Regions from separate parts of the Homo sapiens genome. Here region 2 is linked to region 1. The links come from fine-mapping of genetic effects on gene expression. A gene starts in region 1. The other region holds a variant in brackets. All regions are shown on one strand. Distances are from middle to middle.

Evidence for each region. PIP is the estimated chance that this variant, and not a neighbour inherited with it, causes the effect.
Region 2: its variant is the best candidate, but not a certain one, in a credible set for the expression of SERPINB9 in whole blood (INTERVAL, PIP 0.58).

Annotation. Positions count from the first base shown.
Region 1 is chr6:2,901,601-2,904,612 of GRCh38, reverse strand. SERPINB9 (serpin family B member 9) reads left to right here and starts at 1,304. Exons shown (of 7, transcript NM_004155.6): 1 at 1,304-1,412. RefSeq lists silencers at 1,109-1,158, 1,259-1,338, 1,579-1,628 and an enhancer at 1,339-1,840.
Region 2 is chr6:2,858,942-2,861,644 of GRCh38, reverse strand. It overlaps the pseudogene SERPINB9P1. Among named protein-coding and RNA genes, the nearest start is that of MIR4645, 6.2 kb to the right of the region's middle. RefSeq lists an enhancer at 2,487-2,703. The variant C/T (reference allele first, on the strand shown) is at 1,343.

The sequences.
Region 1 (3,012 bases):
GGAGGTCGGAGCCTCTCCCAGAAGCCAGGGGTTGTGGGAAGGAGGAAATGGAGAATAATTGCTAATGGGTATCACAGTTCCTTTTAGGGTGATGAAAACCTTCTGGAGTTAGATAGTGGTGAGAGTTGGACAGCTTTGTCAATATACCAAGAACTATTGAATTGTATGCTTTAAAAGGATGCATATTATGGTCCGTGAATTGTCTTTTAATAAAGGTTTTATTTTTAAAAACAAGCTAGGCACCTAGGGTGTCAAATTGAAGGAGGCTCTGATTCTCAGGGCCGCGCAAATGCAGGGTTGGCACCTATGCGTGTGGCCCTCCTGAAATTTTGTGCCTTAGGCACCTGCCTTGCTTCTCCCTAATTCAGGCCCTCAGGAGAAAGCTCTAATTCTGGTCAATTTGAAACAGGAGGGCACGGCTTCTGGGCGACGCTCCGTGCTCCAGAGAGAGCCATTTGTCTGTTCCCTTCCTCTGGACGTCACCGTGCCAACATGAAATGCTTCCAATTGAGTCCAGCCTGAGATGGAAGGGGGTGGGGGGATATCTGATGACATCACGAACTGCTGCATCAACTCCCCCGAGTCCCTGCCTCTGGACCCCCTGATAGAGGACACAAGGAGTGTCCTGAGCCCGTGTGACTCAGTGTCTCTTCCCATCACTTTGCGGGAAAATGGGGCTGCTTACACCACACCGCAGCCCAAACACCTGTGGCTAGAGAAGGGCTTGGGTACTAGGAGTGAGGACGCCTGGTTCTGGGCCCAGGACTAGTACTAGTTAGTGGTGGGACCTGGAACAAATGCTTTGGTTCTAAGTGAATCCCCCATATTCATGACAAGAGGCGTGGAACACAGACCCATGGGACCTTCCCACTGGAACACGGAGCTTGGCTGTCACCCGACCTTCGCTTCCTTAAGTACAAAAGCCCAGGGTTCCAGGCTCCGTCTCCTTTCCCGCAGACGCCTTGTTTCTTCGCGCGGAGGCCCTGGACGCCGCAGGCTCCCAACCTACTTCTCTGGGCTGTCAGGTTCTGAACCCGGTCCTGAAGAGGCCCTGGCGCCGGGGGTGGGTGAGGCCGAGCGCGCGCCTTGGGAACCTGGCCGGCCTCAGGCTGGCGGGAGCATTGGCGGACATCGCCCCGGGCGGGGCGGACTGGGGGGACCCTGACCTGACCCTGCTCCCAGCTCTGACCTCGGCCACCACGCGCGGCGCCCCCGCTGGTCCCGCCAGGCTCCGCCTAAACGCAGAAAGCGTGGGAGGCGCCCGACCCTGCGGTATAAAAGCGGTGCCTGCAGAGGCCCTAGCGGGAGTCCGCGGCGAGCGCAGCAGCAGGGCCGGGTCCTGCGCCTCGGGGGTCGGCGTCCAGGCTCGGAGCGCGGCACGGAGACGGCGGCAGCGCTGGACTAGGTGGCAGGTGAGGGCGTCCCCGCGCACGGCTGGGGTAGGGGACGGGAGTGGCGAGCTTCAGGTCCACCGGCTGCCACCGAGTGATGGGACCGGAGGACAGGAGAGGTCGCTCAGCCAAGAGCCCCGGGGAGGCGGTGCCTTCTCGGTGGGGTCAGCAACGGTCTCTGGGGGGTGCCTGGGAGCGGCAGCCGGTCTCCGCCTTGGCGGCCCACAGCCACCGCGGACGCCTCCCTCCCGGATGTCTCCTCGCTGCCCTTCCCTGGCCGAAGCCCTCCCCTGCAGCCTCCTCCCCACCTGCCGGCCCTGTGTTCTCACTGCTCTTCTCTGCTCTGGGATCCGCAGGATGACGTCTGTCCTGCTTCTTCACTGTCCTTTACAGTCACCAGTCTCGGCCGGGCGCAGTGGCTCACGCCTGTAATCCCAGCACTTTGGGAGGCCAAGGCGGTCGGATCCTTGGAGATCAGGAGTTCGAGACCAGTCTGGCAAACGTGGTGAAAACCGGTCTCTACTAAAAATACAGAAATTAGCCGGGCATGGTGGCCCACGCCTGTAATAATGTCAGCTATGTGCTGAGGCAGGAAAATCACTTCAACTCGGGAGGCAGAGGTTGCAGTGAGCTGGGATTGCGCCACTGCACTCCAGCCTGGCAGACAGAGTGAGACTTCGTCTCAAAACAAAAAAAAGAAAAACACAAAAAAACCACCACCAACAACAACAAAAAAATAAAGCCACCAGTCTCGGAGTTTCAAATCTGAGCACTCTTATCCATCTTAATTCTTTCAATAATTCAGCTAAACGAATGGGGTCCTGAGAATCTGCAGAGCCAGGCTCAGCGCTCGCCTGCAGAGCCTGCGGTCTGTGGGGACCACCAGCAAGATGAGGAATCACCTTCGGGAGGAAGGGTCGTGCTGGGGAGGGTCGCGCCGGCGGGGTCAAGAGAACCTCCTCCAGGGTGGGAATCAGAGCCTCCGGGCCGCGGTGTTTGAGGGTGAGTGGAATTAATGCCGTGATGGACATGGGGCCTTCTAAGGGGGACCAACAGTGTTTGTGAAGAGTTGACTTTGGGAGGGGTTCAGGATGGCCAGAGGTGGAGGCTGTGACCTCAGTGAGTCTGGATCAAGGGAGGGGGCAGGTGGGTAAGACACCGTTTTAACAAGGTGGCTTTGAGCGGCCACCTTTGAGGGGCCTAAGGGCCCCTGGGAGATTTAGGAGGAAGGACAAGAGGATTAAGACACCGCTTTCTGAGGTGCCGTGTGGCTGTGGCGTGGGGGTGGCTGGGGGAGTGGGTTGTGTTCATTGTCCAAGGCTCTCCAGCGCTTTGCGTGGCGTTTTGGGGAGCACAGATGAGGTGTCCCGACAGTGGGGAGTGGCTCTAGGGAGACCAGAGGCTCGGGAGGGGGCCTGGGCATTAGACCAGGCACAGAATCCGAAGTGGGAAGAAATGTGGGCGTAGAGGGCAGGCCTTGGGGATGGGTGTGGGGGAGGAGGGGGAGATGGAAAGGAGTCAGGGAGGTCTCCCAGGCTCACCTGGAGGAGTCAGGGTCTCATTTCCAAGTGCACTGGGAACTGCAGCCTGGGGGTGGGGGTTCATTTGGTTTCAGGCCTGT
Region 2 (2,703 bases), 43 kb after region 1:
ACATCTGGAGTCTGTCCTTTATTGATGTTCAGATGTATTTGGAGTTTTTTTTTTCTGGTGGGTTCACGGTCTTGCTGGCTCAGGAGGCAAGCTGCAGACCTTCGTAGTGAATGTTACAGTTCTTAAGGCAACGCATCTGGAGTTGTTAATTCACTCCTGGTGGCCTCATGGTTTCACTGTGCTTAGGAGTGAAGTTGCAGATCTTCACCGTGACTGTTACAGCTCACAAAAGCAGTGTAGACCCAAAACGAGCAACAGTAAGATTTATTGCAAAGCGAGAGAAAAGAGGAAGGGAGGGGGAGGAAGGGAGAGGAAAGAGAGAAGAAGAGAAGGAGAAGGGGGAAGAAAAGAAAAGAAAAGAAAAGAGAAAGAAGAAGAAGAAGAAGAAGAAGAAAAAGCTGCCACAGTCTGGAAGGAGATCTGAGCAGGTTGTCAATGCTGGCTCGGGCAGCCTGCTTTCATTCTCTTATCTGGCCCCACCCACATCCTGCTGATTGGTAGAGCCTAGTGGCCTGTTTTGTCAGGGCGCTGATTGGTGCGTTTACAATCCCTGAGCTAGATACAAAGGTTCTCCACGTCCCCATCAGATTAGTTAGATACAGAGTTTGGACACACAGGTTCTCCAAGGCCCCACCAGAGCAGCTAGATACAGAGTGTCAATTGGTGCATTCACAAACCTTGAGTTAAACACAGGGTGCTAATTGGTGTGTTTACAAACCTTGAGCTAGATACAGAGTGCCGACTGGTGTATTTACAATCCCTGAGCTAGACATAAAGGTTCTCCACATCCCCACCAGAGCAGCTAGATACAGAGTGTTGATTGGTGCATTCACAAACCTTGAGCTAAACACAGGGTGCTGATTGGTGTATTTACAATCCCTGAGCTAGACATAAAGGTTCTCCAAGGCCCCACCAGAGCAGCTAGATGCAGAGTGTCGATTGGTGCACTCACAAACCTTGAGCTAGACACAGGGTGCTGATTGGTGTGTTTACAATCCCTGAGCTAGATATAAAGACTCTCCACATCCCCACCAGACTCAGGAGCCCAGTTGGCTTCACCCAGTGGACCCCACACTGGGGGTGCAGGTGGAGCTGCCTGCCAGTCCCGCACCGTGCGCTCGCATTCCTCAGCCCTTGGGTGGTCGATGGGACTGGGCGCTGTGGAGCAGGGGGTGGTGCTTGTCGGGGAGGCTCGGGCCGTACAGGAGCCCATGGAGTGGGTGGGAGGCTCAGGCATGGCGGGCTGCAGGTCCCGAGCCCTGCCCCGCGGGAAGGCAGCTAAGGCCCGGCGAGAAATCGAGCGCAGCGCCGGTGGGCTGGCACTGCTGCGGGACCCAGTACA[C/T]CCTCCGCAGCCGCTGGCCCGGGTGCTAAGTCCCCCATTGCCCGGGGCCAGCAGGGCCGGCTGCTCCGAGTGCGCGGCCCGCCAAGCCCACGTCCACCCGGAACTCCAGCTGGCCAGCAAGCGCTGCACGCAGCCCCGGTTCCCGCTCGTGCCTCTCCCTCCACACCTCCCTGCAAGCTGAGGGAGTGGGCTCCAGCCTTGGCCAGCCCAGAAAGGGGCTCCCACAGTGCAGTGGGGGGGCCGAAGGGCTCCTCAAATGCCACCAAAGTGGGATCCCAGGCAGAGGAGGTGCCGAGAGCAAGAGAGGGCTCTGAGAACTGCCAGCACGCTGTCACCTCCCACTTTGACCAACGTCTCCCCATTCCCGTGTTCCCCAGCCCCAGGCAAGCCGCTTTCTACTCTCTGCTTTCATGAGTTCTAGTTTAGATTCCAGATATCAATGAAATCATTCAGTATTTGTCTTTCTGTGCCTGGGCCTGGTTTATTTCACTTAGCATAATGTTTTCTAAGTTCATCCATGTCGAAAATGACAATTTTTTTTTAAGATTGGATAATATTCCACCAGATATATGTATACCACACTTTCTGTAGCCATTCATTCATGGACAGACACTTGGCTTGTTTTCATATCTTGGCCATTGTGAATAGTGCTCCAATGAACATGGGAGTGTAGATACCACTTCAAGGTAAGGATTTCATTTCCTTTGGAGATATACCCAGTAGTGAAATTGCTGGATCATACGGTAATTCTATTTTTAATTTTTTGCGGGACTTCCATACTGTTTCCCTGAATGCTTGTACTAATTTAAATTCCCAGCAACAGTGTGCAGGTGTTCCCTTCCTCCACATCTGGACCAGCCCTTGTTATCTTACTTGTTTTTTTTTAAATTTATTTATCATGTTATTTGATTTTTAGAACAACTCTAAGCCATGGACAAAGCGGAAGCCATTACCTTCCTTTCACAAATGAGGAATGGAGGACAAAGGTTTAGAAACCTTTGTCCACTAGACACTTGACACTAGACACTTGTCTAAGATCACACAGATAGGAGACTTAAATTTAGATGTTTGATGACGCAGAGATACAGACAACAGGAAGAGGATGGAGGTTAAACCCAAAAGCTCAAGCAAAGGGCTGCTGAGCTGAGCATCTGTGAGGCTGTACTACACTGAAGGGCCTGCATGAGCGACGGTGTGGAGGGAGAAGACCCATAAGACAGTTACCAGAGGGACCAGCCCAGACAGAGAAGGGGCAGGGGACAGAGCCATTCAGCTGGAGCCATACTGAAGAGGAGTTGGAACTTTTTCCAGGGCCATCATTTATGATCAGTGGAGTCACATGATCTCCTTGGAGGCTGGGA